2 separate regions of the Homo sapiens genome follow, and region 2 is linked to region 1. Evidence: fine-mapped expression QTL. Tissue or cell type: whole blood. Region 1 holds a variant in brackets; the other region holds the start of a gene. All regions are shown on one strand. Distances are between the middles of the regions.

The links. PIP is the estimated chance that this variant, and not a neighbour inherited with it, causes the effect.
Region 2: it holds the start of ERCC5, and the variant in region 1 is fine-mapped to the expression of ERCC5 in whole blood (TOPMed, PIP above 0.99).

The regions. Positions count from the first base shown.
Region 1 is chr13:102,866,973-102,882,490 of GRCh38, forward strand. BIVM-ERCC5 (BIVM-ERCC5 readthrough) reads left to right here. Exons shown (of 23, transcript NM_001204425.2): 20 at 1,141-1,285; 21 at 5,226-5,426; 22 at 6,287-6,371; 23 at 8,335-9,023. The coding sequence ends at 8,931. It overlaps ERCC5 (ERCC excision repair 5, endonuclease), which reads left to right. Exons shown (of 15, transcript NM_000123.4): 12 at 1,141-1,285; 13 at 5,226-5,426; 14 at 6,287-6,371; 15 at 8,335-9,023. The coding sequence ends at 8,931. It also overlaps the pseudogene METTL21EP. Among named protein-coding and RNA genes, the nearest start is that of ERCC5, 29 kb to the left of the region's middle. The variant C/A (reference allele first, on the strand shown) is at 7,780.
Region 2 is chr13:102,841,120-102,856,637 of GRCh38, forward strand. ERCC5 (ERCC excision repair 5, endonuclease) reads left to right here and starts at 4,913. Exons shown (of 15, transcript NM_000123.4): 1 at 4,913-5,235; 2 at 10,999-11,174; 3 at 12,638-12,753; 4 at 13,169-13,255; 5 at 14,933-14,993. The coding sequence starts at 5,148. BIVM (basic, immunoglobulin-like variable motif containing) reads left to right here. Exons shown (of 11, transcript NM_017693.4): 11 at 1-414. BIVM-ERCC5 (BIVM-ERCC5 readthrough) reads left to right here. Exons shown (of 23, transcript NM_001204425.2): 10 at 10,999-11,174; 11 at 12,638-12,753; 12 at 13,169-13,255; 13 at 14,933-14,993. RefSeq lists enhancers at 3,843-4,667, 4,252-4,301, 4,512-5,301, 4,668-5,490 and a silencer at 5,652-5,701.

The DNA.
Region 1 (15,518 bases):
TGAGTGATCTTTGGCTTATATAGAGGAATAGGATTTTAAACATTTGAATTAAGGAATTAAAGTCCTAGTATGTTTAGGTAGTTAATCAACTGACTTAGTTAAACTTTGACTAGTTACCCGAGATCTCCACAGTGAACAAAAGGTGGTGGAGAGGGGAAGCAGGCCGCGCCTGGGCCTGTATTCGGGTTTCTGGCACTGATCTTCTTCTGTTCATCCAGCAAATATATGTTTGGTGACTCCTATATGCCAGTTGTTCTTAACAAGAGGGAAGGAACAGAGAGTAAAATAGTAGGAGAAACAGATGATAAGCAGATACATAAATCATAATTTGACAGTTGGTGGTAAGTGCCAAATAGAAAAATATAACAGTAAAGGAGAGGAGAGAGTGAACTTCAGGCATCGAGAGTGCAGGTGCTGTTTCAGAGAGTTGTTGGGAAAGGCTTTACTCGTGTAACTTCAAGGCAGGGACCTGCAGGAAATAGGAAGCAAGCACTGTAGATAGATACCTCGGGACTAGTGAGTGAAAGGGGCTGAGGCAGAAGCTTGTGGGCTGTGTTCTAGGGAAGCAAGGAGGCCAGTGTGAGAGGAGGAGGGAGGAAATGGCAAGGGTTAATCTTAGAGAATAGGAAGAAGCTGAAACCCACCAGGGTCTGGTGTGCTAGGGTATGCAGGCAGATTGAATGTGGGGTGGGAGAAGAATGAAGTCGAGGAGGATTCCAGATACTGAGCAGCTGGTCGAGTGGACCTGCCTTCAGTAAGACAAGGAGGGAGCACAGTGGAGGAGGAGAAACGAAGTGTTCAGGTTTGGATATGATAAATTGGGGATGCTCATTGGATACCCAGTGGAGGTGTTGAGTTGATAGTTGAATATATGTGACTGTGGTTCAGAGAGACTCAGGCTAGATAGCTAACTTTGGGGGTCAGCGTATAGAGGGTATTTAAAGCTATGAGAATGGATGAAACTTTAAAAATATTAACAGAATGCCATTGAATAAAATAATTTATTTTCAAATAATAAGATATTTTTGGTGGTTGGATATAGATATAGATATACACACGTACATGATTTATATAATAAAATGTTTATAAATGTCATATAAGAAATCTTGATAAAAATTAAAAAATATTGTTACTCTTTAGGATTGGACCGGAATAAGTTAATAAATTTGGCTTATTTGCTTGGAAGTGATTATACCGAAGGAATACCAACTGTGGGTTGTGTAACCGCCATGGAAATTCTCAATGAATTCCCTGGGCATGGCCTGGAACCTCTCCTAAAATTCTCGTAAGGTCTTTTATTTCTTTAATTTGGATAATTGTGTAAATACCCAAATAAGCAAATAGAACTATTATTTACAGCATGAACTGTCATGCTGTAACATGTGAACAATGGTTCACTGAGAAAGCAGCAGAAAGTATTGGTTGTTTTCCATTTTCTAGAGATGATGAAATCAGAGTCAGTTCTTAGTGGTGCTGGGCTTATCCTAGTTCAAGGGTACAAAGCCAGTCCTGTGGATTTCACAGGAATGTAGAAGTTGCCTTTTCATCCATTGACATACTTATAGAGCAGCTATGATGTGTCAGACACTGTGCTGGCCCTGGGGAAAGGAGAGATGAGTAAGGCATAGGCCATACCCTCAAGGACTCCCCCCATATACTTGGAGGTGATGGAGAAGCAAAGCAAATTGTACTTGTCTGTGTGTTTGGTGTCCTGAGAGAGGTCAGCCAGGAAGCGACTTGGAAATATAATGCCAGGAATGTTACATCCAGCACTCCTGTCCTGTTTCTCACCATGTGAATCCCGTGACGTGTTCAGTGGTGAAGTCTTGCTCCATCCAGAACCCAGAGTCGTGCTATACTCGGGGTACATTTATCATTTTGAAGATTCTGAGATGGTAGGAGTTATGAGTATGTCTGGGAAAGTAGTTTTTTCTTTGTCCTTGATGGCATCTTTTTAAAAAATTGAAATATAGTCACATACCACAGAGTTCACCGATTTAAAGTGTACAGTTCATTGGTTTTTAGTGTATTCACAAGATTGTGGTGGCATCTTTTAACCGTCACTATGTCGTGAGATGCTGTTTGGTGGTGGCTGATTTAATGATCCTTGAGTGTTCTCTCCAGTTACATATCCTGTGTTTGAAAGATGCTAGGATGCTCTGACCTGAAGAGTCAGTGACTGGAATCACTGAAATGAACGGCGAAACTGTTGTAGTGATCATGGTCTTCCAGTCATAGCACACTCACCAATGTGTTGTATTTTATACTTTCTTCATTTATCTTTTTCTGATTTTCTTATTGTTGAGGAAATTTATATACCGGGAATGAGTTATGAGGTAGACATACGTCATGGTAGGTAAATAACTTGAAAACCTACAAATAACTTTATTATACAAATAAAGTAAATACATCATAGAAAATTATAAATATGTATTAAAAAGATGATTACAGTTTACAATTTGTTTATGTAATTTTAGACTTCACACATATATATGCATATACATTGCATATATATGTATACTCATTTGAGTGTGTGTATGATTTTTTTTATAAGAATGGGATGATGCTATATACTTTTTATTTTACCTGTAACCCATTTGGTATTAGAACAAGACCTATTATCAACGATGATATAGATTTATATCGTTTTTAATGGCTACAGGTAGTATCTTTTTGCGTCTATCAGGGCTAGTTTAATCAAGTGTCTTTTGTTATTTCTATTTTTAGAAAGGTATTAACAGACATTGATTTGAGTGTCCTTAATCTTCGGGTTCTTATCTAATGATTATTTTAGAATAAGTGAAATAGTATCTGACTTTTCCATTTGGTTTCTTGATAACTATTGAGAGTGAATTTTTTATGTTCATAGACGGTTTGTGTTTCTGATTTAGTGAATGACCTGTTTATGCTGTTCCACTTTTCTTTGTTCAGCAGTTTTTGCTCGTTTGTTGCCTGCTGAATCATTTTCATATTTGAGCAGTTTCTGCCTTTGGTCCTCCAGCTCGTTGATGCCAGATAGGAGCAGCCTTCGCTCTGCCTGGCTCAGGACATTTAGGATGAATACAGAGTAAAGAGCAGGAAGGATGGTGGGAAACCAGTAAAATCAGAATGTGGCCTCACTTTGTTTTCTGTTCTCCTCTTCTGAGGGCACCCTGGCTGGTGAATCATTCTTAGAGTGGGGCTGCATTGGGCCTGCAGGTTGAATTGAGCTGTAGTCACATTTGGTTTGGACTACACGGTGTATTCTTCTCTTGAGCTTTAATTTTCAATTGGCTACCAACATTTACCTTTGGGAGATTTTACACAAAATTATGGATTCTGTTGGGGGAAAAAGGAGAGCTGAAAATACTGGGCCTGAATTTCTGGATAGCCCCAAAATAGCTGGCATGGAGCAACAGCAGTTCCCCTCCCCTACCCCAAGGCCTTGGACTGGGCATGAATCCTTCAGTTTCATCACAGTTGCCTCCACTCCCCCAGCTCAGCTGATTGACAGACACCTTCCTCCTTTCATCTTTATGTGAAGTGCCAGGCCCTCCTGCTTGAAGGAGTAACCATAGCTTTGGCTTGATGAGCTCACAAGTGCACTGATTCTAACTGCCAGTCATGATTACAGTTTCAAAAACGAAAATCTGCAAGTAAAGTAGAGGAGAATTATCGGTATTCTCTCAGTGCACTCCTGGAAAGAATGTTGTAAAAGTAATGAAGAAAAATTATTTTTTCCTTTTTGCATTTTGTTGTTATAATACTTTGAAGACCGCAATTAGTAATTTCCAACGCTAGATGGCACTCCTGCATCGGTGAGGCGGACCCTGGCCCTGACAGCCGGTCTGAGTGGGTTCCTAATGCTGCACTAGCAAGCTTGTGAAGCGGGGGAGCCTGAGCTGCGGGCGTTTTTTCAGGTTCCATTGAGTACATAGATTGGTGAGGATTATGTTAGTAACTTTGATGGCATTTATTTTTTCCTAATTGTGTAAATGTTTCTGGTCAGTCGTCACTGCATTACAAACTACCTTCAGCCTTAGTGGCTTCACACAGCAGTAGTCACTGATTTTGCTCATGCCTCTGAAGCTCGCTCAGGCCTGGTGGGGGTGTCTTGTCTCTGTTCCATGTCGGCTAGGACAGCTCAGCTGGGCTAGGACCCCTTAAGATGGCTCGCGGGGCTGATGAGGTGGCTTCGGCCTCGGGGCCTGGGTGGACACTTGGTGAGCTTGGCTTCCTCATAGCATGTTGGAGCCAAGAGCAGGAGGTCCAGGGGACAGGAAGTGGCGAGGGCCTCCCCTAGGCCTGGCACGGCTTGAGTCACACTGGTCAGCCATGGCCGCCCTGCTCAAGAGGAGGCCACAGGGACCCCCTTCGTGATGGGAGGAGGGTCCAAGAGTGTGTCGCTGTCTTTATCCGGCCGATTTAGGCTTAGAATGGAAAACATTGAAAAATGAATAAAATATAAAGAAGAAAATGAATGGCTGTGTGCTCACGTAGAATATTGCCTAGCACACAGCGAAATAATAGTTGTTAGTGTTATTTATTTTAAGTATCTGTTTACTTTTCTCATATATGTGTTTTTTCCAAAACTGGAATCATACTTTAAGTAGAGTTCTATTATCTCTGTTTTTGTATATATTTATTTGTTTTACATACATATGTATTTATATATATATAAAATGTTAAATTTTAAAAACAGATACATGTATCTGTTTTTACAGATTTTTTAAACAAATTTAACATTTTCTTGGCATATTTACATTTTATTAAATATTCTTCGATCCATTATTGTATTTGATTTGAGGTAAATAATACAGATACATTACTTCCATTTTACTGCTGAGAAAGAGACCCAGAGAAGTTGTAACTTCTGTGGTATAATTATGAGTGTGGGCTCTAGAGGAAGACTGTACCAATTCCAGCTGTGAAATCTTGAGCCAGTTACTTATTTTTGAGTTCAGTTCCCTCCTCTGTGAGGTGAGGGTAACGATAGGGCATGGCTTGTGTGATGATTGGGCATGTGAAATATTTAACACAGTGCCAAGCACAGAGGAAGACTTCCATAAATGTTTGCCATCATTATACATTGTGGCTAATAGTACTAAAATTAATAAAATATTCTATATAGCATACAATTTGAGTTAGAACTTGAGTTTACATGTTCTAAGTTTAGTTCTTCATCCATAGTGTATGAACTATAATGTCTCATTGCTGTGTAAGTAATTGTTTCCTTTATTTTACAGAGAATGGTGGCATGAAGCTCAAAAAAATCCAAAGATAAGACCTAATCCTCATGACACCAAAGTGAAAAAAAAATTACGGACATTGCAACTCACCCCTGGCTTTCCTAACCCAGCTGTTGCCGAGGCCTACCTCAAACCCGTGGTGGATGACTCGAAGGGATCCTTTCTGTGGGGGAAACCTGATCTCGACAAAATTAGAGAATATCCTTTGCTTCTTAAAAGAGAAGGAAACACCTTGTCAAATATGTGTTTGGTTTAAAACTTATGGAAGAGAAACTTGGATCATTTTTTTCTTATATCCCGTTAATCCCATTTTCTTAATATCCCGCTCTCCTTTTCACTCTTTCTTCCCTCTCCTCAGTTGTTGTTTTTTGTTTGTTTGTTTGTTTTAAAGGAACAGTGTATCACTCTGTCACCCAGCCTGGAGTGCAGTGGTGCAATCATAGCTCACTGCAGCCACCACTTCCTGGGCTCAAGGAATCCTCCTGCCTCAGCCTCCTAAGTAGCACAAGCCACTGCATCTGGCCCCTCTCCTTAGTTTTAAAGAGGGTCTTTGTTTGAATAAGCAGTGATAAGCATTCATAGATATAACCACATACTTAAATATTATTGATTCTGAAAGAAGGAAAGATGACTAATCTTGTCCTTTTTATTACTGGTTGTCCTTTCCGTGTATATTTAAGTAATCATTTGGATAGATGTTTCAAAACTTGCACTAGAATTAATCCAACTACGTTTGATTTTTTCTCTTAATGAAATAGGCAAGATATCTGAAACTTGTTTTTATTCCAGTTAACCTTTTTTCATAGTCACAAGTCTTTGATGTCCTAAAGTGAGAGCTAAATATGTTTTATTTTATAGAATTGAAAAGAACATAGTGCCAGATGATTATGCTGGAGTCATTTATTTTGTTAGTACTTTCTTTTAGCACTCTAATCTTTATAAATAGGAAAATCTTAGGAGATACAGGGAATGGAATCAAGAATGGGTTCTTTGGACCTTTTTATTTGTCACTTGTTTAAATATCTTTCAAAATATTTATAAGTCTTAACTGCATGCATATTTTGTCAGCGGTATTTCGGCTGGAACAGAACGAAGACAGATGAATCTCTGTTTCCTGTATTAAAGCAACTCGATGCCCAGCAGGTAATCATGGTGGACCCTTCTCCTAAGTTCAGGATGAAGGGTAGGCTGTGGTTGACAGCTGTTAAAGACCAGTTAACTCTTATTTTGGGGCATAGAGCAGACATTTTGAAATTAGGATAATTTAGATGAGAGAATAGAAGAAAATAGAAAAAGAAAAGTTAGACTTTGGCTTCATTTTCTATGATCACTCTTAGGGCTGAACTTTGGAGTCCTTTCATATTCATTTTTTTCTTTGAAAAAACCAGTCTAATAACTGATTTCACACTAAGGTGTTTCTGATTAAATACATTACCCCTTGGGATTTACTTTCATTTTTTAACGAAAGGAAGTCTTCAAAGCAATTCTGATCATTTAAGTTTTTATAAGTACTAATATTTTTAAATTCTATAAACGAATCTTGAAAGGTAGAAGTTCAGTCATTATTGTGTATCAGTAGGAGAGGTTTTTGTGGGAAGGAGCCCTTTTGTATGACCTTTAGTTCCTCTAGGTACCTACTTCTTGCTTTATCTGTGAGTATGTTCTGACTCACACAAAACAAGCTTTCGCCCACACTAGAAACAACCCACAAAACATACATACAAATAAACCACTTAGCAGAAATGAGAATGTAGCTTTTGTGATAATATATTTAAATTAAACCCATTTTCATTAGGCTTGGATAATTTTGAAAAACATGAACAAAACTAAGACAGCATTTCTATGAGTTTCTCTTTGTTTTTTGGATGACTATCTACTGGAAACATTATAAACCAACCAAAAAGGAAAGCTATTTGTCTTAGTGTCTGGTGATTTCTTAATTTCAGATAAATTTTGTTGTAATATTTATCTCCTTTTTCATTCTAAAACTTAATGTGTTTATTTTTCCAAAATTAGAAAATGAAGAAAATGAATTAAAACTACTCATTAGTTACCTCCTCTAATACAGTTGTTAACATTTAGGTTAAAAAATTTTCCTGCATTTATTTGTGGCCATACTAAATGTAACTTAATAGATCTAATCCTCCCCCCCAACTTATTAGCATATTTTCTTCTATGTATTGTGTGGTTTTCTTAATTCCAGATGACTAGATTATATTTCATGAAAGATATTTAAATAATTAGTTCAGTTTACTTGTTAGACCTTTAATTTTCAAGTTTGTTATAGTAATGCTGTGATGAACATTAGGCATATAGCTTTACCCATATATTTTTTTTTTGAGACGGAGTCTCACTCTGTCTCCCAGGCTGGAGTGCAGTGGTGAGAACTCGGCTCACTGCAAGCTCCGCCTCCCGGGTTCACGCCATTCTCCTGCCTCAGCCTCCCGAGTAGCTGGGACTACAGGCGCCCGCCACCACGCCTGGCTAATGTTTTGTATTTTTTTAGTAGAGACGGGGTTTCACCGTGTAAGCCAGAATGGTCTCGATCTGA[C/A]CTCGTGATCCACCCACCTCGGCCTCCCAGAGTGCTGGGGTTACAGGCGTGAGCCACCATGCCCGGCCAAAGAATATCTTCTTAAAAGTGAATTTACTGAATAAAAGGCATGAATATTTCTTACAGTTGCTAATATATACTGTGAACTTGCCTCTCAAAGGTATTGTATGATGATAATGTTTTTAAAAGAAAGATATAGTAGGACTTAGAAACAGGCCCCATGAAGTCGTGTTGCTCCTGAGGAAGATGAAATGTTTAGCTACAGAAAAATATTTAACGCTCTTTGAATATCTTAGGAAGAGATTTCTCATTTGAGATGTGGACTAAAGACTTAGTTGACAGAGATGGTACAAGTACTGCTTTAGGTATGATTTAGAAAGTGAAAATTACTGTCAGTAATTCACTGGGAGAGAACTGGGTTTTGGGAGATAATGAATTAATATTCTCTGACATAGTAATCCAATGTGAGTGATCAAGGTTGAGCTTGTTGATTTGGTTTAGAAACTTGACTTACTTGTCTGATTTATTATTATTATTCTTTTGTTATTTTTTTAGACACAGCTCCGAATTGATTCCTTCTTTAGATTAGCACAACAGGAGAAAGAAGATGCTAAACGTATTAAGAGCCAGAGACTAAACAGAGCTGTGACATGTATGCTAAGGAAAGAGAAAGAAGCAGCAGCCAGCGAAATAGAAGCAGTTTCTGTTGCCATGGAGAAAGAATTTGAGCTACTTGATAAGGCAAAAGGAAAAACCCAGAAGAGAGGCATAACAAATACCTTAGAAGAGTCATCAAGCCTGAAAAGAAAGAGGCTTTCAGATTCTAAAGGAAAGAATACATGCGGTGGATTTTTGGGGGAGACCTGCCTCTCAGAATCATCTGATGGATCTTCAAGTGAAGATGCTGAAAGTTCATCTTTAATGAATGTACAAAGGAGAACAGCTGCGAAAGAGCCAAAAACCAGTGCTTCAGATTCGCAGAACTCAGTGAAGGAAGCTCCCGTGAAGAATGGAGGTGCGACCACCAGCAGCTCTAGTGATAGTGATGACGATGGAGGGAAAGAGAAGATGGTCCTCGTGACCGCCAGATCTGTGTTTGGGAAGAAAAGAAGGAAACTAAGACGTGCGAGGGGAAGAAAAAGGAAAACCTAATTAAAAAATATGTATCCTCTATAATTAGTTATGACAGCCATTTGTAATGAATTTGTCGCAAAGACGTAATAAAATTAACTGGTGGCACGGTCTTTGTATTTAGTGTGTGGTTCCTAAAAACAAATGCTAAATCTGACATTTGTTTTTTAATGTTTTACTTTTCTAGTATTTTTTAGCTGAATATTTCAAGTATCATTGGATATTATCTTGTATTCACAGGCTTTGTCTTTTCATGTTTTCATTATCTTAACAATGTCTGATCCTTCCTGGTCACATGTTAAAAAAGCGAAAAAGATTTCTATTGATCAGCACTCACTCTCAATAGGCTTTCCCTCTGACATTCAGACGTAGCTGAGAAGAAATACGTGCATGTTTCTAATTCCACAATAGTGGCAGTTTTACACAACTGTTTAGCCCTGCTGCCCACGGCTTTGCATTTTCCCTCAGGTTCCACTTAAAAGCATAGCAGGAGGGAGCCTCACTGCTGGAACATATTTCAATATGTTTGCTGTGGTTTTAGCAAACAATTAGGAAACCTAAATGGGGTGCATCATTCTACCTGTGAACATTAAGTGTATGGGAACCTCTGTACCGTTATGTTTGGCTTTTAAACCAGACTTCACTTATTAGAAGCTGACTTCTGTGTAAATGGATTTGGAGGCTGGGGGCTGGAGTTGAACTGGTGTAGGTGGGTCAGCTTTAGGAGTGGCCTGCAGGGGATGATTGTTGTTGACACAGTGTTTGTTCAGAGTGGACAAAGAAGGTTATTTTAAGACTGCTCCTGTGGAGACGTCTCCCAAGAACAACCCCCAAGCTCCTATTTGCTTCGAGTTAAGAATGATTGGAGGAGAGTACTACCAATTACTTTGAGCGTGGGTCCTCTGCCTTCAGAGCTACCTTCCCAAGTCTGTGTCCTTTTGGCATCTTTAGTATTTCCATCTTTCCTGACTTTTTCCTTCAGCCTTCAAATTGAAAATCTTCACCAATGAAAACAAAATCCAAATAGATAATCTCCAGCAGTCTTTGAACGACTCCTAGATGTGTTGTTTTTTAGGCTCTCATTTATATTGACTTGGCCAGCCAAACTTCTCCAGTACTTGGACTACAGCAGCTGCTTTTCTTTGCACACTATTTTTTCCTAATTTCAAATACGTCTTCTGCATCCATCATTCTTCTCTAGCAGCTCCTTCTAAAGTCAACAATGATTTCCACATAAACTCAAATCTTTTCTTCATGCTTCTTTTCTCTGGAGGTACTTGGAGCAGAACATTTTTGGAGGCAAGGGGAGGGGAAAATTAACTTTTTCGTGTTTTTCTCATTTCTCAGAATTACTTGTCACTGGGAGTTTTCTGCATATATATTTGCAGGTAGAATAATTGTCTTGCTAACAAATTTAATTTGATGCCTTTAATAGATATTTACATTTGTTTTTCACTGCGTTAGCTTTGGGAAAGGATAAGCTACTGTAACAAAAGATGCTCATATACAGTGGTCTGAATAAGCTAGAACATTACTTCTCTCTTACTCAACAGTCTGGCCAGTCTGAGCTGGTGAAGCAGTTGTGCACCATGAGGTCATGCAGTCCTGTGTTCAGCCAACCCCTAGGGTGCTATCTTGCCTGAGTGGTCTATACTGGGTGATTACTTCATCTGCATTGCATCCTGCCAGAAGGGGAAAGAACCAAAGTCCAGGGCAAGCAGAAGGGGAAATGGATGGTCAGGACCATGAGAAACCTGTTCTGTAACACTATTTATATGAGAGTTTGATATTGTATCTTCTTTTTCTCTTAACCCTGTGACCAAGACATAATGCTTTTACAAGGGGAGAAACACGTTTAGAGACATTAACCAGTTTTGCCAAATTCACCCATGTAGTAGGTAAAACTTCTCACCTGAACCAAAATCTTCTAACTCAAAATTCCAGGGTGCTATTTTACCTATGAAAGAGGTTGCCTGTTTAAAATAATCAGCAGCTGAACAAATTCTTTATTATTCACATCAAGTTGGTGTACCTAGAGCTTATTTAGGATGATGACCATCATACGCCTTTTCGATTATCTTCCAGCTCATTAATATTTTGTTTAGCTTTATCTATACTTGCTGTTAAACCCATATATTGAGTATTTTATTTCATTGATTGTTATTTTTCAGTTTTATTTGACTCTTTTTTTTTTTCAATTTGACTCATTTTTATAGATTCCAGTTCCCTGGTGTACTTCTTGTCATCTGTTTTTGAGTATCTTAATCACAGTTACTTTAAAGTCTGTCGAATAACTCCAATATCTAAGTCACCTATGAGTTTATTTCTATTGTCTGTTTCTTGGTATGCATGGGTAAATTTTAACTGAATGTTGGACAGTCTATGGGAAAAATTATAGGTACCCTGTACCTTCCTCTAGAGAGGATTCCAGAATGTATTTGGACAGGCAGCAGAGGGGAAGATCACCTCAGTGCAGCCAGCGAGGACAAAGTAGATTGAAGGCTAGTTTGCAGTTTTTTCTGTAAGACTCCAGCTTCTAGTTTCACCCGTATTCCAGGAAAGTCACTTTCCAGGAGTGCCCTGATGTTTCTTCTTTTGCGCTTGGATCTGCTTTTGCCACTGAATGCTTCAAAAATTAGCCTCTTGCCCTAAACAGCTTAATCAGTCAATTCTTCGACTGAATAGTCAGCACTAAGCGTCAGGCTTCTCTCTCCCTTTTTTCTGGGATCTTGGGCCCACAAATCTGACTGTCTTGGCAGCCACACTCTTCTTTTGTCTCCACAGTTCTGTGAGATTGCCTGATGCTCCGCTGCTATCCTTACATGCGGTCTTCTCTTTGGCTTCCTCAGGAAACAGCAATGCCTGGAATTCTTGGCTGCCTTGACAGCTCTCTGATACTTTATAACAGAGGCATGTTTGTGTGGGGTGTGTGTGTGTGTTTAAAAATCTATTTTTCTCATTGTTAATAGAAGCTGAGGTTTGCTATAAGCTACTTACAGCTGGAGGCAGAAGTCTGTATGTATTTGTTAAACAGTCATGTTGGTTAAGATGCTTGATTGAGGGATTCTGCCTCTTAAGAGATCTAACAGTGAGGATTGCATGATCTTTCAAAAAAATCCTTAAAAAAGACAATGGTTTTTATTCGTCATTTATTTTGTTTTTAAAAAAGCCCCAAAGAAAGAGTATCCTCTGCCCCAAGTTAACTGCCTATGAATAATAGTTCACATTGCTTAGGATTTTGAACTTTCCAGAATGTTTTTACCTATAATATTCACCCCACAAATATATGTTGTATGACTTTTGTATCATTTTTAAAAGACATTTATATTTTTTTGAGATAGGGTCTTGCTCTGCTACCCAGGCGGGAGTTTGGTGGTGTGACCACGGCTCACTGCAGCCTCCATTTCCTGGGCTGAGTGGTCCTCCTGCCTTGGTCTCCCAAAGGCTAAGGCACCCTGCCGATATATACTTGTTCTATAGATGATGAAACCAAGAAACATACTAAGTAAATGGCTTAAAATCACAATCTAATTATAGGCAGGAATAACTAAAATCAGGCTTCCCAACTCCTAGCCCTTTCCAATACATTAAAGTGACCTCGATTCATCTGTGTATACATTATGGACCTGTAGTCACACTCCTAAGTTTAACTTTCCAATATTGCTTTATCTTAACTCTGTAACTTTCTATCAGGGATCTTTCCAGTGGCATGGGAAATGTGTATGTCCTCTGAGAGGCACACATACATGCACTTGGGCAGGTGCACAGATGGATCTATGTTCGGAGCCTGCCCATTCAGTCTGAATAAAAAGGAATCATGGTAGTTTGATTTCTGGGTGCAGAGCAATGCTACAGACATTCTAGTATGGTTGTTGGAGTCTAAAGACAGTGTTCCCATGCAGATAGGTGACATGAAAAATATGTAGCGTTCATTTCCTAGAATGTCATAGCCACGGAGTCTTAGAATAACTCTTGGCATCCAAGTTAAAAGCTGGATCACTTCCTCCAAATAGTCTTCACTCACTTCCGGGAGTGGGTTGTATTCACCTTTAGCTCTGTTCACGAGACACTCGTGGGATATTCCTAGCCTTCTGCCCCCTTAGTTACGGGCATTGCCGTCTCACTGCTGTATAACCAGAGGCGTGGGAGCTGCAGCTGTCAGAATCCTAATCCCTTCTGCCTGGACTCGTTACCAGTGGTAGCGAGTGTGTATAGTAGTAAACTGTGCTGCGATGCTAGCCTTTCAGTCACTACCAGAGGTCCCAGCAGCAAAAACAAAAATTGTGGATGATACATTTTAACCTTCTAGAAACTCAGCTAACTCCTTTAGGTATGTCCAGGCTTTCCATTTAAATATCAGCCTTAAGGCAGACATGTCTTTCTTTAATGGAAGAGATCTAAATTGGGAGCAAAACATGTGACCACTTTTGCTATCGTTTTAGCTGTGTAGCCTCAATGACATAATTTAACCTTGGTTTTCCTGATTTGCAAACTGTAGGGAAAATAATGTCTTCTAACTTGCTGAAGTATGCTGTAAAAGAAAATGTGGTGGCTGTAAAATGTGCTTTGGGATTCTCGGAAGAAAGGAGTGCTATATTAATTCATGGTACTGCAATTGTTATTTTACCCCAGATTGAGAAGTAAAATATCAAATCGTTATTTTCTAAAGTTTGAATAACTGTTAAATTTATTCAGATAATCTGCTCTATTCAAGAGGCATAAATAGTTTCTTCAGTTTTAAATATATCGGCTGTGATGGTATGGACTCCTTAAGGTAGACGCTGCTCAAAAGATTATCTGGCAATGAGGCTGTTTGACATTGCATAGGTGCTAATGATGCATTGATGGTAACAAGTGAACTTTCAATGTTTTAATCGCCTCTTAAATTTTAGGATTGCAGTCTTACTAGTCAATATGAAGATGATGCCTTTCTTTGTTACAACTGAGGTAGTCTCTGGTGAAGAATATGTTTTCTTTCTGTAGTAGCTTTTTAAAATTTCTGACTCAGAAGCTTTTGTTCTGATTTTAATTTGTTCTAGATAGTGTTTAGATGGTCTTTCTTAAGTCACGCTTCGTTAATATATGATATTTTAATATAATTTTGTCTGCTGTATTTGAAGTTAAGCTTTATTAAGAAACTATAAAAGCACTCCATACATATTTTGAATTATTACCATTTGATATTTTAATGTATTATCTATCTAGTTTTCAAGAAATAATGAAGAAAACATCAATATATCACCTACCATCATTTCATTACTTGATGGATTCAGAAGCTCAAGAAGGTAAGTCATTTTATGTTTATGTAGCTTACCAATTCTAAGAAGACAAATAACTAATAGAATATAAAGTGTCACCTTTGTAGTATTCATTAATGTCTTAAATGGAGCTGACACTTTTATCAATGGCATATTATGTCTTGGTTTATATTTGTGAGCCTGCAAACATCTTGAATCATGTTTAAGTCTATTACTATACCATGATCTTGATGATATGTTAAAGATACTTTTGACAGATTAAATTAAATATATAGACTTACTAAGCATGTACAGGGTTTTTGATCTTCAAATAAGGAATACATTTTTTTCTCAAGTGCTGTACACTAAATGTATGATGTGATTTCTAAGCAAATTTTATTTCAGATAAGAAGCTTGCAAGAAAGATAAAAATAGTTTTATGTGAAAACTATAAGTTTTTACTGGTGGTTGGATGAAAGGTGAATTTAGGCTATACAGACATCTGTAGCCTGAGTTTATGGTTCCTCTAACTATTTATTAGAGGCAAATACATAATGTAATTTGACCTCTGGATGTAAAGAGATTAAGTTTGAATTCTACTATCAGTGTGGTTATTTGAAATTGAACCATCATTTTTATATAGTCTTAAGTATCAAGCGTGACTTTGCATGGGTTATGTAATATAACTGTCCCCATTGTCTTGAGATCAAAAGTACAGACATACACTCTTGACAGACTAGAAAAATTACCATATTTTTGTAGAGCAGTTGTAATACAAATCTAAATATCTTGATTTCTTTTGTTCTCTCCTTATCTGCACACACTGTAGATGTTTTCTGAACACTATAGTTCTGGTTTTTCTGTTTTTGGCCATTCCAGGTGGCTTCTACCTAGGAGAACACATCTTTAGGCCAAGAAAGCTGGGTGTATGCCCAGTGTTGGCAGCCTACCTGGCTTAAACACAAATAGTTTTACCAAGCGATTCTTGCAAACCTAACCATTTAAGTCGATCACTTAGAGAACCCAGCCATTTAGATGATTTGAATGAAGACGCAATTTCTGTATGGTTTATGAATAAAATTATATCATTATCATTACCATTAGTAACAATTCTTGGTTTCAACTGTGTAGAAGATAATTTGGCAAATTACAAAGGAAGTGGAAGAAGTTCAAGGTAAGGTTGAGACGGAACTAGCATTACAATGTTTTACAACACAAACAAACACACTCTGTAATCATCTATATAGCCAAATGAAGCTTTAAAAATGTGTTCACACACACAGAGCTAAGGGAATTAAGGATGTGCCCTTGGAGCAGATCAGGTGGCATTTAGTTGGAAAGCCATCACCAAGTAGAGGAACACTCAGTTCT
Region 2 (15,518 bases), 26 kb before region 1:
GCTCCTCTAGTTGCTGTTGGTTTTTCTTCTGCTGCCAACCTGTGACTCACAAATGACTAGGATCTCTTGTTCTTTAATTTTAGGGTCTTGTTCCAGGACTCAAATCAGTAACTTGGTGATTACAAGGTGCTGAATGTGTTGGTAACCATATCGCAATACACCTCAAGGAAAAGGTTCAGATTTTTATTTTTAAAATATTTTCATTTTTTTCTTGAATTTTATATCCGTTTGTTCACTCGTACATGCCTAGCCTACAGAAGGGGATATATATTATGAAATGGTCATTTTTCTGAAGAGAATATTTTGCTTGAAATGCAAAGGACTGAAAGAGATTTGTAGGTTGTTGATTTTGTTACTTCATACTGGAACTTTTAAAAAGATTTCATCAAATAAAGTTTTGTTTTCTACTTTTAATTATATGAATGTTTTTAAACCTTTGTTTTAGGTAGAAGGTACCATTGTGTCTTTGAAGTACATGATAATTTGTCAATTCTGCTCAACTGGTACATTGTAAGAAACCATCTTGAGCCTTTTATAATTAATGAAACAATATGCATTATGATGACTGTAATTTTAGATTTCTAATTTAATAGGAAATAGAAAATTTGATTCTTTTATTAGCTTGAACCAAATGAAGTTGTCATCTTTGTAGGTCAAAAATGGTTGAATATTAGCAATTTCATACAGTTCAACTGAATATTTCAGAGAAGACGTAGGTAGGAAGAACCAAGAGGAAAGGAGAAAAATGCAAAATAAAATAAGAAATTAAAGGATAGGGAGACACCTAGAAAAACAGGATGAGTTATTCAGACTATTGACCATAATCAATTTTTATAAAAGTCTTGATCTGTTCTAAGTTTGGCTTCCAAGTTTGGCTTTCCAGTTATTAAGAGCACAATGAGGTTTGAGTTTAGTGAGATTATCTTTCCCGCAGAAGCTGTAAGCAAGAGTTACTGCATACTTCTCTTAGAAGATTAGTAAAATTCCCTTGATATTTGATTTCTTGGTCAGCTCTTAGGAATCCTATAGATACAGTGAAAGTTCAAATACTGGCTCTGCACTTACAAGCTATATCACCTATAGTGATATAGGCAAGTTAAGGTTAATTTTTTTTCTGTGCCTATTTCCTCATTAGTAAAGTGGGGGTAATAGTATCTACTTTATAAATGAATTTGAAGAATAAGCTAATACATGTAGTGTTTAGAACAGTGCTTTGTAGATAGGAAGTGCTATTTAAGAGCTTGCTATTATTCCAAAAGATGTGAATTTTACTATTCAGAGTCTTTAGAGAGAGCCCTTTAGATAGCATCTTAAGGAGCTAATTCCTTTTAAATCACATATGCACCCCTTAGTTGCTGTTTCTTCAAAAGAATATTTCATATTCAAGAATGTTGCTTTATTTTTTTGAGACAGAGTCTCGCTCTATTGCCAAGGCTGGAGTGCAGTGGTGCTCTCTGCAACCTCCGCCTCCCGGGTTCAAGTGGTTCTCCTGCTTCAGCCTCCCGAGTAGCTGGGATTACAGGCATGCACCACCATGCCCGGCTAATTTTTGTATTTTTAGTAGAGACTGGGTTTCACCATGTTGGCCAGGGTGGTCTCGAGCTCCCGGCCTCAAGTGATCTGCCTGCCTCGGCCTCCCAAAGTGCTGGGATTACAGGCGTGAGCCACCATGCCCAGCCTTTGCTTTGGTTTTAAAAGTACTTACAATACTCAAATGCCTATGTTGGCTATTTATTTTTACCCAGCTCACAGGCAGAAAAAAAAAAGTTTATTTAGATCAAATTCTGCAGCAATTCCTTTCCCTACTGCTATTACTGTTAAAGAACTGTGTGCCATCATTAGGCCAAGTTGGTGCAGCACCCAAAATACTTGCCAACTTGTCTTCTCCCAGACTGGAGGGGCTCAGGCAGCTCTTCTAGGATCCATCACATTCTGCATCTCAACTTTACCAATAACACTCCCACCCCTCCTGTACCAGCGATTCACTCAACAAACTAAATTATACACCATTACCAGGTCAGTTCTTAAATAGCTCAGCAGCAACAAGAACAACAAGATGTTGGTCGCATTCTAATTTTACTGGCAGAAACTGAGGGTTTCATTGGTGAAGAAACCTGCCTAGGATCACAGTGTCTTAGTTTCTCAGGGCTACCATAACAAAACACCACAGACAGGGTGGCGTAAACAACAGAAATTTGTTTTCTCATGGTTCTGGAAACTAGAAGTCCAGGAGCAGGCAGGTTTGGTTTCTTCTGAGGCCTGTCTCCTTCACCTGCAGAGGGCCGCCTTCTCACTGTGTCCTCACAAGGCCTTTCCTCTGTGCCTATCATCCCTGGAGTCTCTCCCTGTGGCCCAATTTCCTCTTTCTACAAAGACACCAGTCAAATTGGATTTAGGGCCTATCCTAATGGCCTCGTTTCAATTTAATCATTTTTAAACGCTGTGTCTTCAGATAGTCACATTCTGAGGTACTCAGGCTTCCACAGATGAATTTTGGAGGACACAATTCAGACCATAACACAAGGCAACATATGGTTCAGATGAGATCTGAATGAATGATCAGCCTAACCTCCAAGCAGATTCTTTCAGCAGACTGCAAGGTGCACTGGAGAGCTTTAGACTAGAGGCTTAAGAGGTCATTTAGGCAATATTTACAGAACTGCTAAGTGCCAGGATTGGGGGATGTAGCAGTCACGAAAATCGTTCTTCGTTTCAGTAAGTTTACAGTTTACCATGGGGAAGAGACAAATACTGAACAGGCAGTTATATTACTCTCAGTAAAATAACAACTGGGAACAGTTTCTGGGGATTACTTTACATATGGAGGAAATGCAAAAAACACTTTGTCAGGATTATTCCTGTAGCAAATTAGATGTGACTAGGTCAACCAAACATGGCCACTGTGAACCATCTTATTGAGCATAGAAGTGGTTTTGCTAAAAATGGATTTCTCCACGGAGCACGGTGGCTCATGTCTGTAACTCCAGCACTTTGGGAGACTGAGGCAGGAGGATTGTTTGAGACCAGTTTGGGCAACAAAGCAAGACCCTGTCTCAAAAAAAAAAAAATCAGGGCGTGGTGGTGGGGGCCTGTAATCTCAACTACTCGGGAGGCTGAGGCAAGAGCATCACTTGAGCCTGAGAGGTGGAAGTTGCAGTAAGCTGAGACTGCACTACTGCACTCTAGCCTGGGCGACAGAGTGAGACCCTGTCAAAAAAATAAAAAATAAAAAAATAAAAAAAATCAATTTCCCGTATACTTCTGTTATAAAGAAGTCTTTAAAAAATTGCCTGCTCCCTTAAGTCAGCCTTTTCACTGAGTTTAAATTTCGTTCCAATTTGAACAAATATGGATGCTAATACTATCCTTTATAGTTACTAGTGCTAAGTGCGTTGCATGTAACACCTTGAATACTTACTGAAGTCTGCAAGGTTGGTTTTATGCCCTGATTACTGATGGAGACACAAATTCTGAACAACTGTGACTTCAGGGATGCTAAACACCATAGTGAGGCACGATGCGGGGATTTGAATCTTGGCCTGAGGGTTCCAGAGCTGTGGCCTTTTCTGGGGTTACTCTGTTAATTGATTTCTAGTCCTTTCTGATCTACAAGCCGCGGCATTATAACTTTTAGATGCTGAAGAAAACTAAACTATATGTCAAGGATTAAGGCTTGTGAACCCCCAAAATTTGGGACAGGTCTCAGTTAATTTAGAAAGTTTATTTTGCCAACGTTAAGGACGCGCAGCTGTGACACAGCCCCAGGAAGTCCAGATGACATGTGCCCAAGGTGGTTGGGGCACAGATTGGTTTTATACATTTTAGGGAGACAGGAGACATCAATCAACATATGTAAGTACACTGGTTCCTTCCAGAAAGGTGGGGACAACTCGGAAGCAGGAAGGGCTTCTAGGTCACAGGTAGATGAGAGACAAAAGGCTGCATACGAGTTTCTGATAAGCCTTTCCAAAGGAGACAATCAGAATATGCATCTATCTCAGTGAGCAGAAGGATGACTGACTAGAATGGGAGGCAGGTTTTGCCCTGAGCAGTTCCCAGCTTGACTTTTCCCTTTTGCTTAGTAATTTTGGGACCCTAACATTTTCACAGGCTTTAAATTTTATTATTCTTTAGTTACTACGTGCTAGCATATAAATAAATAGTACAAAACCAAGAAGGCATCCACCTTTTGGTTGTCTCTTCACGTGTAAAACAACACTTTGTGTTAAGTATCTTCACACACGGCGGCGCAAAGGTAGAAACCGATACTAAAAAAGCGTGTAGAAAATAGTTCCCAGCCTGGGCAACACAGGGAGACCTCATTTCTACAAAAATAATTCGCCAAGCATAGTGGTGCGCACCTGCGGTCCCAGCTACTTGAGAGGCTGAGATGGGAAAGTTGCTTGAGCTCGGGCAGCAGGAGTTCCAGGCTGCAGTGAGCTAAGAATGCGCCACTGGACTCCAGTATGGGCGACAGCGTGAGACCCTGTCTCAAACAAAAACAAAAGCCCGTTACTCCACCAAGAAGGCGCTTTTGCACATTGTTTTAATGCTTAACGCCTTCAGGATGCCAGCGTGACGGAAGCAAGTAACCACCAAGGCATCACCACTGGCGCTAAACTTCTCACTTCCGGAGTGCTGCAAGCGCAGAAAATATACGTCATGTGCGGAGGCGGAGCTTCCGCCCTGCGCGTCGTATTAGACGGAAACCGAGCGGGCCCATTTTTCATGGGTTTGCGGACCCACCAGCGAAGGCGGGAGGTGTCGCAGGGACATCTTCTGGCTGTTTCCGTCGCCTGCGTGGCCCTTGCACCCCGGTCTTCCATTAGCGGCGCAGACGTTTGGGCCTAAGCGCTGGGCGAGGCGAGGCCCTGCCCCTCCCCGCCAACGGCCATTCTCTGGACCTGTCTTTCTTCCGGGAGGCGGTGACAGCTGCTGAGACGTGTTGCAGCCAGAGTCTCTCCGCTTTAATGCGCTCCCATTAGTGCCGTCCCCCACTGGAAAACCGTGGCTTCTGTATTATTTGCCATCTTTGTTGTGTAGGAGCAGGGAGGGCTTCCTCCCGGGGTCCTAGGCGGCGGTGCAGTCCGTCGTAGAAGAATTAGAGTAGAAGTTGTCGGGGTCCGCTCTTAGGACGCAGCCGCCTCATGGGGGTCCAGGGGCTCTGGAAGCTGCTGGAGTGCTCCGGGCGGCAGGTCAGCCCCGAAGCGCTGGAAGGGAAGATCCTGGCTGTTGGTATCCTTAACGCCGCGTTGGGACTTGGGGTGCAGGGATTCGGGGCTGGATTCCTCGCGGGGCTCTGCCTTGGGCACAGTGGCATCTGCAGGATGATGGTCTTGGGTCGGGGTCGGGGTCGCTATAGAATCTCTGTCACTAGGTTTTCTAAGTACAGTCGTCCCTCGGTATCCCCGGGGCTTTGGTTCCAGCCCCTCCTCCGTATACCACGATGTTCAAGTTCCTTCAACTCCCTTATATAATGGCGTGGTATTTGCATATAAACTACCCACTTCCGTAATCTTTTAAATCGTTTCTAGCTTACTTGTAATGCCGAATGCAATGTAAGTGATCTGTAAATAGTTGTTATACTGTATTTTAAAATTTTTTGTAGTTTTTATTGGTATGTTTTATTTATTTATTTTTTTCCATCGCAAATATTTTTGATCCGTGGTAGGTTGATTGCGGAATCGGGTGATGAGGCGGGCCGCCCTGTCTGCTTTCCCCAGCTTTGCAGTCTTAGCGGCCTGTGCATCCTGGTTTGTCACTTTGTGGCAGTGCTTTATGTTCCTCTCTGCCTTAGTTCTCTCATCTGCAAAGTAGAGGTGGTGATAGTATCTACACACAGGATTGGAATGAGGAATAAAGAAATTGCCTACATGAGAGAAGTTTAGTGCGATTAATACAGTAAATCTTAAAGTTATTATCCTGTCCGGGAGGTCAGTAAGGAGAGCAGAGTAGACTTCGACGATTAGTTTTGCTTGAGTCTTGCCCCATTTATGTTTCTTAGAGGAAGGATAGTGTGGACAGGTGTTTTACCCATTTTTTAAATTGACTTTTTAAGGACTATTGTTTCTGTACATGTTTGGCTGGTTTTGTTTGTCATTGGAATTAAATTCTTTTTTCATTAGCAAAACGTGATACTGCTTTTGAAATTTTTATCTTTTTCTTTGTTATGTAGTCATTTTTTTTTTTTTTTTGAGTATCTATTCTGGCTCAGAATCTGGTGATACCTTACACCAATTTCCTAAATGGGGATCTATGAGTCTAGGGGCTCGTGGGCTTGTGGAAAGAGTCCTGTAAATGATTGCGGGGGGATTGGGGACGGGAAATGGAGTGCAAGAGTGTGTGGGCGTTCAGCAAAGGAATCCCTGACTGTGGAGCCCTAATTCTTCAGTAGGTACAAAACTTATAAATAAAACGACATTGATAAGTTTTAAAACATAATGAGATTATCATTTTTTGCAAGTGAATAATCTTTAAATAAATCTGTAATTGATTTTTGGCTTAAAAGTTTTTATACAGGGTACTTTGAATTGGGGAAAGCCAAAGGATTTTTGTTTTGTTTTGTTTTGTTTTTTGTTTTTTAGAGCACATGCGCTGTTGCTGCCCTCAAGCTGTTGCTTAGTATCATTGCAGTCTAAAGATTTTCTCAGAAATAAAGGGTAAAGGTTAGTTTTCAGTGACAAGAACCCTTAAAACTTCAGCAAAGATTTAGATCATTTTATGTAGCAGCCCTTGTGAAGAATTACTAAAGAGGACTGTGGCCAGGCTCAGTGGCTTACGCCTGTCATCCCAGCACTTTGGGAGGTCAAGGCAGGAGGATCATTTGAGCCCAGGAGTTCAAGACCAGCCTGGGCAACATAGTGAACCCCTGTCTACACACAGTCAAAAAATTAGCTGGACGTGGTGGCCTGCACCTTTGGTCCCAGCTACACGGAAGGCTGAGGCAGGAAGATTGCTTGGGCCCAGGCGGTCAAGGCTGCAATGAGCCGTGTTCATGTCTGTCTCTGAATAAATAAATAAAAAGGACTGTGAAAGACATTCTAGTCATGACAACCTCATATATTTATAATAAACTCGTTTATGTCAAAGGAGTATATCTGATTACTTGTTCTACAATCGGTTTTGCTTTATTTCATTTTCACGGGAATTCAGACACCTGAAATTATTTAGATTTTATTGTATTGTTTGTTAATGACAAACTTACCCGTTATTATACTAGTTTCATAATTTACTCTTGTATCTCTATACTAAATTGTTTGGTCTTTAAACCATCTATATAGCTTAGTGTCTTATTTATACAGTCTAAATGTCTGTGTCAAATAATGCAGAAGTAAGTTAAACTTTTGTCTCTTATAGATTTTAATGTTTGTAATATGCGTTTAAGTGTATTAGCAAGATATTACCATCTCTTTAGGCTATGTATACTAATGGAGATTTTTAAGTCACCTAACTAAAGAACTAAAGAAACTTATTTTTTGTATTGAAATGTTATTGGTCTTTGGGTCTTATACCGAAAGTGATTTTTGGCTTTGCTGCAGATTTTAACTTTTCTGTCCGCAGAAATTTAATTTTGCGTATATAAACTTACTGAAATTAGACAAGTCAAATTATACAAATATTTTCAGATTGTCTCATTTTTCATATTTCTTGTCTAACAATTTATGTGAATATTTTCAGGTCGTCTAATTTTACATATTTCATCTCTAAGAATTCAAGCCAAAATTCTCAACCCTAGCTGAGAATTGGCATTACCTGTAGTTAATTGAAAAATAAAAAATAAAAGAAGTCCTACCTCAGTCTCTATGATTTAGAATTTTAGGCCCATGGGGTTTAATAATCCGTATGTTTCAGAAGCTTCATATCCTATTCTAATGGATAGCAGGGATGAGAGCCACTGATCTGAAACTAGATTTCCTCACTGAAGTTAAAGTTTAAAGTAGTGGGCCAAGTAGAAACTAATTTAATCCTATGTAATAGTGAGCTTCATGGCTTTTCCAGACTATACTTGTAGCAAGCAGAAACATCGATCTAATACAAGACAGATGCACATCAACACCAAGTTCTACCTCTGAGATGTATCTTTTATCCGATCTCTTCTCGTGGTCTCCACCACTACTGTCTGCGTTAACTTGGGCTATTGTAACTCATTTTAGAACTGGTTTCCTTATAATCTGTTCTTCACATGTTCATCAAAGTTATCCTTAAATCATGTTCTAGAAACTTCCCAGTGGCCGTATCACCTCCTGCCATTCCTTTTGTCCTGCTGCACTGGCTTCCTGGAGATAGGGACCGTCTCTGTTTTGTTCATGGCTGAATTGTTTGGTGTATATCCCTAGGGTCTTGGATATGCCTGGCCCATGGTATTGCTAAATATTATAGAAATAAGCATAGCAGTAGCTTGCTTTCCACTAGGTATTTTGTTACATAGTGTTTTGTAAATTAATTGTTGATGGACCTACATTTTTTTTTATGTTAGTAAAAGTTAGGCAGTGTACATTCATTTAAATACTAAACTGTTCAACTTATTTAATAGCAGATATTTATTGTGTATAAGAGTCCCTGTGAAAGGGAGTGCAGTGCACAAATTGCCCGGGCAAGCCATGGAGCACACAGGCTGGGTTTTTTCCCTGCTAGATTATAAACTCCATAGGGCCAATACTGTGTTTTGTTCAGTGCACTGGATATGCCAGTGCATAGAAAAAATGCTGCCACATAATAAAAACAGAAATAACGTGATAGGTGGCCCCTTCAATGTTCTTTTCCTATGTTAGAAATTTACCTGCAAATATTAGCATCAGTCCAGGTTTCTCTCTGTTTTTTTTTTCTTTTTGTTTTTTTTTGAGACAGAGTCTCCCTCTGTTACGCAGGCTCGAGTGCAGTGGCGTGATCTTGGCTCACTGCAACCTTCGCCTCCCAGGTTCAATCGATTCTCCTGCCTCAGCCTTATAGGCACACGCCACCATGCCTGGCTAATTTTTGTATTTTTAGTAGAGACAGGATTTCACCATTTTGGCCAGGATGGTCTCGATCTCCTGACCTCAGGTGGTCTGCCCGCCTTGGCCTCCCAAAGTGCTGGGATTACAAGTGTGAGCTACCGCACTCGGCCTCAATATATTTTTTAAATAGGAATGTATACAAGGAGGATGTCTTCATCTAGACTGAGGAGGGGACCCCTGGACTGAGACCTTAGAGTAGGAGAGAACTAGGCGGAGAGAGGGAGAAACTGTTTCAGGCAGAGGAAGCAGCATGTGAGAAGAACCTGGAGGCAGGAAGGAGCTTAGTGATTTCTGGGTTTGAGGAAAGCCCAGTAGCAGGAAGTGAGCAGAGGCCAGATCATTCAAGGCTTCCTAGACCAGGAGAAGAAGTTTTAGATAGTATCTTGAAGGCAGTGGGAAGCTTTGGAGGGTTTTCACCAAAGATACGTTGGTGAAATCTAGTATATACCTTCAAGATACATTAGAAGATAGAATTGATAGACCTGGTAATAGCTATAGGTGGTGATGCCCAGCATTCTGGCTCAGGTGAATGGCAGGGACATTCACTGAGATGGGGGCATGAGCAGCTGAGTGGAGAAGACATGGAGTTCAGTTTTGATCATGTTAAGTTTGAAATGTCTATGAGGTATGGGGTAGAGACGTCATCTGGGCTCTCTGTTCTGGGGTCAGGAGCGTGCTCTGGGCCAGACATATACATGGAGTCAGGGCGTGGTGTATGTGGAGGGGAGTGGAGGTTGATAGTTCAGACAGGAGGAAAGAAGAGGGCCTGAGAAAGATCACTGATGAAGTGAATACTTTAACAGTGTTACAGGAGCTGGCAAAGAGTCTGAGAGCAGGAAAACCAGCAGAGCGCGGTGTCACTCTTTCTTTTGGACAAATATAACATTTTTTGAGAAGCACTTTTTAGAAAAGTTTAAAAATATAAGAAAACTTCAAGATGAAAATATAAGTTATCTTTAGTCTCAGCAGACATAATATCTACTTTAATATTTTGGTATGTGAACTAGTTTTTTATATTTAACATATATACTGTATCAGAAAATGGAGTTATACTTTATATGGTTTTATAGCCTGTTTTACTATCTTTAATAATATTTAATGACTATCTTCCTTATCACACATGCTCCTGCAACTTCCATTTTTAAGGGCTTTTTGGTATTCCAGCAAATAGGTCTGCCATAATTAGTTTTTCTTTTTTGAGACGGAGTCTTGCTCTGTCACCAGGCTGGAGTGCAGTGGCGCGATCTCGGCTCACTGCAACCTCTGCCTCCTGGGTTCAAGCGATTCTCCTGCCTCAGCCTCCTGAGTAGCTGGGACTACAGGTGCGCACCACCATGCCCAGCCAATTTTTGTATTTTTAGTAGAGATGGGGTTTCACCATGTTGGCCAGGATGGTCTCGATCTCTTGATCTCGTGATCCACCTGCCTCGGCCTCCCAAAGTGCTGGGATTACAGGTGTGAGCCACCGCGCCCGGCCTATGATTAGTTTTTTAAAAAGACCTGCTGGAAAACTTTTAAGTTGATTTTTATATTTTCATTATTATAAACAAGCATTCTGTAAATAACTCTCATTATATATCCATGATGATTTTCTGAGGATCAATGTCTGGAAGTGGTAAAATAGACTGCAAAGTTTTAAAAAGTTTTTTTCACTATGAATTGTCAAATTGTCCTCCAGAAAATTTGTGCTAATTCATGAAAATTCTTTAGCAATCACTTATTTTTTTTTAAAGAAGCAATTCTTTGCAATGAGACTTCTTAAAAGGATATGTCTGTCTTTGTATGATTTTAAAATGCAGTATGTGAATAGGGGTAACAAGAGTTCAACTAAAAGTTAACTGACTTTAGGTAGATCCCATGAGAGCTAAATGTTTTTCAATTTTAAATGAATAGTGATAAGTATTTAGTGTTCAACGTTTGGATAATATCAGTTATTAGGAAATTGAAGTTGTGAGGATGAAGAGAAAAATCCCGGAGTTTTTTCCATTAACAATTCTCCCAGATATTAGCATTTGGTTAAACCAAGCACTTAAAGGAGTCCGGGATCGCCATGGGAACTCAATAGAAAATCCTCATCTTCTCACTTTGTTTCATCGGCTCTGCAAACTCTTATTTTTTCGAATTCGTCCTATTTTTGTGTTTGATGGGGATGCTCCACTATTGAAGAAACAGACTTTGGTAAGTGTCGTATAGTTTTTAGTAAGTGTCAAATAATTTTTTTCTTTCTGCATTCTTAGAAAAATTCACATAAAATTTTTGTTTTCTCTTTAGAATTTTAGAAACAGACTTATTTTGACACATACTTAATTACATCTACTTTTTTATCTTGAACAATTAATTTTTCTTTTAAAAAGTTTTATGAGAGTTCATCATGGGTACAATGATAAAATTTAACTTTTAAATAAAACTAACTACTAAAAACCTTGCTGTTGAGAGTTTTCCCTTCAGAGGATCTTGTTAGGTGTTTTATATTTATTTCAAGGATGCGGCCATCACTCAGAACACTGTGGAAACCCTCTTTTGGGAAGTGCCTCCCTGAATCTGAGATCAAGTATCCTCCGTGATAGCAAGCCTTCTTTTAAGGGGAATTGGATTTTAGGAGTAAGCAATGTTATGTGGTGCCAAGTGGTGACTAAAGTGGATTATCTAGGAAGGAAATTGACCATGATATAGAAGAGTCAGAATGAGTTGCTGCTTTATTGTTCTGGAAGTAGTTTTAAAAAATGTTTTTGGAAGGCCGGGGGCAGGAGGATTGCTTGAGCCCAAGTCCAGCCTGGGCAACACAGGGAGACCCCATCTCTAAAAAAATGACATAAAATAATGTTTAAACAGTCCAAATGACAGCACCCATTTGGATATATGACTTTTATTTGTTGAAAATACCAAAGTAATGAAATGATGACTTTGTAATCATACCAGATACTCTCTAAATGAGGATATAGGATAAAAGTAAGGATATAGGATAAAAATAAAAAGCATTTATAAATGCTGGGGGACCTTTGTTGCCTCAGTAAGAGTGTCTAGTCTTGAATGTTGCAGTTTTCAGTTACCCAAGGCATACTGTAAATCAGGTACTTTGTGGAAGGATTAGAAAGGAAAAGAGAATATCTTGGTTATTTTTATCCGATATTCAGCCATAAGCACAGGGACTATCCATTTGTCACTACTTGAACATTTCTTACAAGATATTTCTATACATTTTAGAATTTCTCATGATATATAATCTTGAATATTGAAGGGCAGAATTACATGTAAGTAATGCATGTTTATAAAAAGCAATATTAGAAATTGTTTTTGGTGTCACTGTGACATTTTATAGAATAAATAAATAATTTCTTTTGGGAAGCATTTAAGCTTTCCACTTCTTGGGCATATTAAAAGACATTTAAAAGAAACTGAAAGTAAATTAAGTTTCCCAAATATATTGTGTAGTAGCCCATTAAGTAATAGATGGAAACTCTGGGTGTCCTTTACGTAGCAGCAACCTGAAGATATACACTGATATGGCAATTAGGAGGAAATGCTAAAGCAGCCATAGTCTGAAAACTCAGACAAACCAAATTCTCTGGAAAATAAATCACAGCAATGTTTCTAGTGGTCTAATATCCTGAAGTGAGATCTTACATCCTTTCTTCTCATAGGTGAAGAGAAGGCAGAGAAAGGACTTAGCGTCCAGTGACTCCAGGAAAACGACAGAGAAGCTTCTGAAAACATTTTTGAAAAGACAAGCCATCAAAACTGCCTTCAGAAGCAAAAGGCAAGAGGAAAATTATAGTCGTGTTAGAGATGAAGTTTTAAAAAAGTGATTTTTGTCTTGATTTCCTGCGATTCTCTTTCCCTATCTAATTTTGACTCTCAACAGAAAATAGAGAGTGAAATGAGACAAGTAGGCTGCCATTTTGACCTGGTAATTTGGAGTTGTGGCAATTCTCCGTTCTGTGAGAATCAACTTTGCTAATGAGAAAAAAAAGCTGTCGTGTTGCGTCATGTACACTTTTTACTTTGATTATGGTCTTCTTGACTCTAGGTGAGCAGCCCCGCCAAGGTTCCTTCCTTTCTCTCGGCTGCATTTATTTTCCACAGCAGTGGCCTGAGAGCAGCCAGGTCAGGTCCCTGTTCACCATCCTGAGCAGGGTCTGCATAATCTGTTTAAAGATTTGTGTACTTTCCAGAGATGAAGCACTACCCAGTCTTACCCAAGTTCGAAGAGAAAACGACCTCTATGTTTTGCCTCCTTTACAAGAGGAAGAAAAACACAGGTAAATGTTTAACTATTTAAGAATATTATTTTAGTCATTGCTACATTCAGACACATTTAAACCTTGATGTGTTATCTACATGATAAGGCATGTGAACATTTCTTAATGCATCTGAAATAGGCATGCTCTATACCTTTCAGAATATTTTTCAAAGACTAAATTTTTTATTTACTATTCTTTGTGTTTTGGTGATTCATGATTCTTATTCCTCTTCATTCTAAAGAACTTCTGCCAGGGCTGTGGATTCTAAATTCTCCAAGGCATGAATTTTAGTTTTGCTTACACTTTGCTTACACATGCTGTCTCTAGCTGCTTTTCAATCCAGTATGGTCTCTCTCACCATGATGCTAAAATACCACAACCCATGACATTCTTGTTGCTAAATCTAGCAGACGCTTTGCACGTCTTAGTGTGCTCGACTTCTCTGCACTAAACACCATGCCACACTGCCCCGCTCCCCCGGCATCTCTCTGGCGCTTTCTGCTCAGCCTCTCTGTGGACTCCTCTTCCTCTGTCTCTCTCTTAATGGTTGGTGGTTTCTGTGTTTGAAGTGAAGGTGGAGAACCGGAAGCTTGGCAGTTTGCCTTTGTCCCCTGTCCTTCCCTCCACCTCTTCCTTTCCCAGGAGTTCCCAAGAGACAACTTAGCTTTTGTATCAGCTCAGTTCTATTTGTCTCCATTGCTACCACTGTCATTTTTTCTCCAGGTTACATTATTAGCTTTTAAACTTCTTTCTGTCTTTGTCTTTGATCATACCCTTTTTGTAATAGTTCCTCCCACCAAGCCCAATCTCTGTTTTGTGTTATAGTCTGTTTAAAATCCAAATCTGATATTGTCATTTCCTTACTTAAAACACTTTCTAGCTTCTCCTTCTCATTTTTTTCTTTCTTTTTTTTTTGAGATGGAGTCTCTGTTGCCCAGACTGGAGTGCAGTGGCACAATCTCAGCTCACTGCAACCCCTGCCTCCTGGGTTTAAGCGATTCTCCTGCCTCAGCCTCCGGAGTAGCTGGGATTACAGGCACGTGCCACCACACCTGGCTAATTTTTTGTATTTTTAGTAGAGACGAGGTTTCACCATGTTGTCCAGGCTGGTCTCGAACTCCTGACCTCAAGTGATCCACCTGCCTCGGCCTCCCAAAGTGCTGGGATTGCAGGCGTGAGCCACCACACGCAGCTTAGCTTCTCATTTCTTTAGGATAAAACTTTAACTCCTTAATTACACTTTCCAGTCTTATCCCTGCCTTTCTTCACATCATCCACAGGCAGGCTTTCTTTTCCTTGTTTCTATATGGTCATACAACTTAGTTCTTTTGCCTGGAACACTCTTCTCCATGAACCTTCCCGCTCCCTACAACTACACTCATTAATTCGTGGCTAACTCCAACCAGTGTAATTGCAGGAGATCCTGGAAAGCTTTTGTGACTCCTAAATTGGGTGAGGTGACTCCCTATTGCATCTCTAGTGACCTGCCCTTCCCTTGTGGTGGAAGTTATTAGATCCCACTCTAATTGCTTACTTACACGTGTCCCCCACCAGACCATGAGACCAGTAGTGGCACAGATCTTGCTGTTTTATTCACCACTGTAGCCCGTATAACGAGCAGAGCCTTGCATACAAGTATTTTTGTAAGGGGTCCTTAAAAATCATAGATATCGTAAAAGTATGTTTGACTTTCAGTTCAGAAGAGGAAGATGAAAAAGAATGGCAAGAAAGAATGAATCAAAAACAAGCATTACAGGTATTTAGATCATTTTTGAATTCAGAATGTATTCTGTTATTTGAAATGAATGACATGAAAATGAATATTAATGAGGTATATCAAACTGTGAAAGTTCCTGATAAAAAGTAAAGACAGATGGCTTTTTGGTTGTGCATATATATGTGTACATGTATGTATTTAAAACACACTCACCTACACACGTGTATATATATATATATGGAATTTGCCATTATGCACATCTATATATTCAAAACAAGCTATTTTTCTTTTACAACCAACCAACCAATAGTAATATGTGCTTACATAGAAAATATAGAAAACATATCATTCATAAATAACTTGTAATAACAGTTTGATATATTTTCATCCATTCTTTGCCTGCCCCATATAGTTGAATATCTGTGTGTGTATTTGTATATATGTATCAAATGTGCATGTGTACATATATATGTGTACACATATGTGTGTATGTTCTAGTTATCTGTCGCTGTGTAACTTAGTGGTTAAAACATCATTTGTTATCGTCATCTGTCTGGGTTCCAG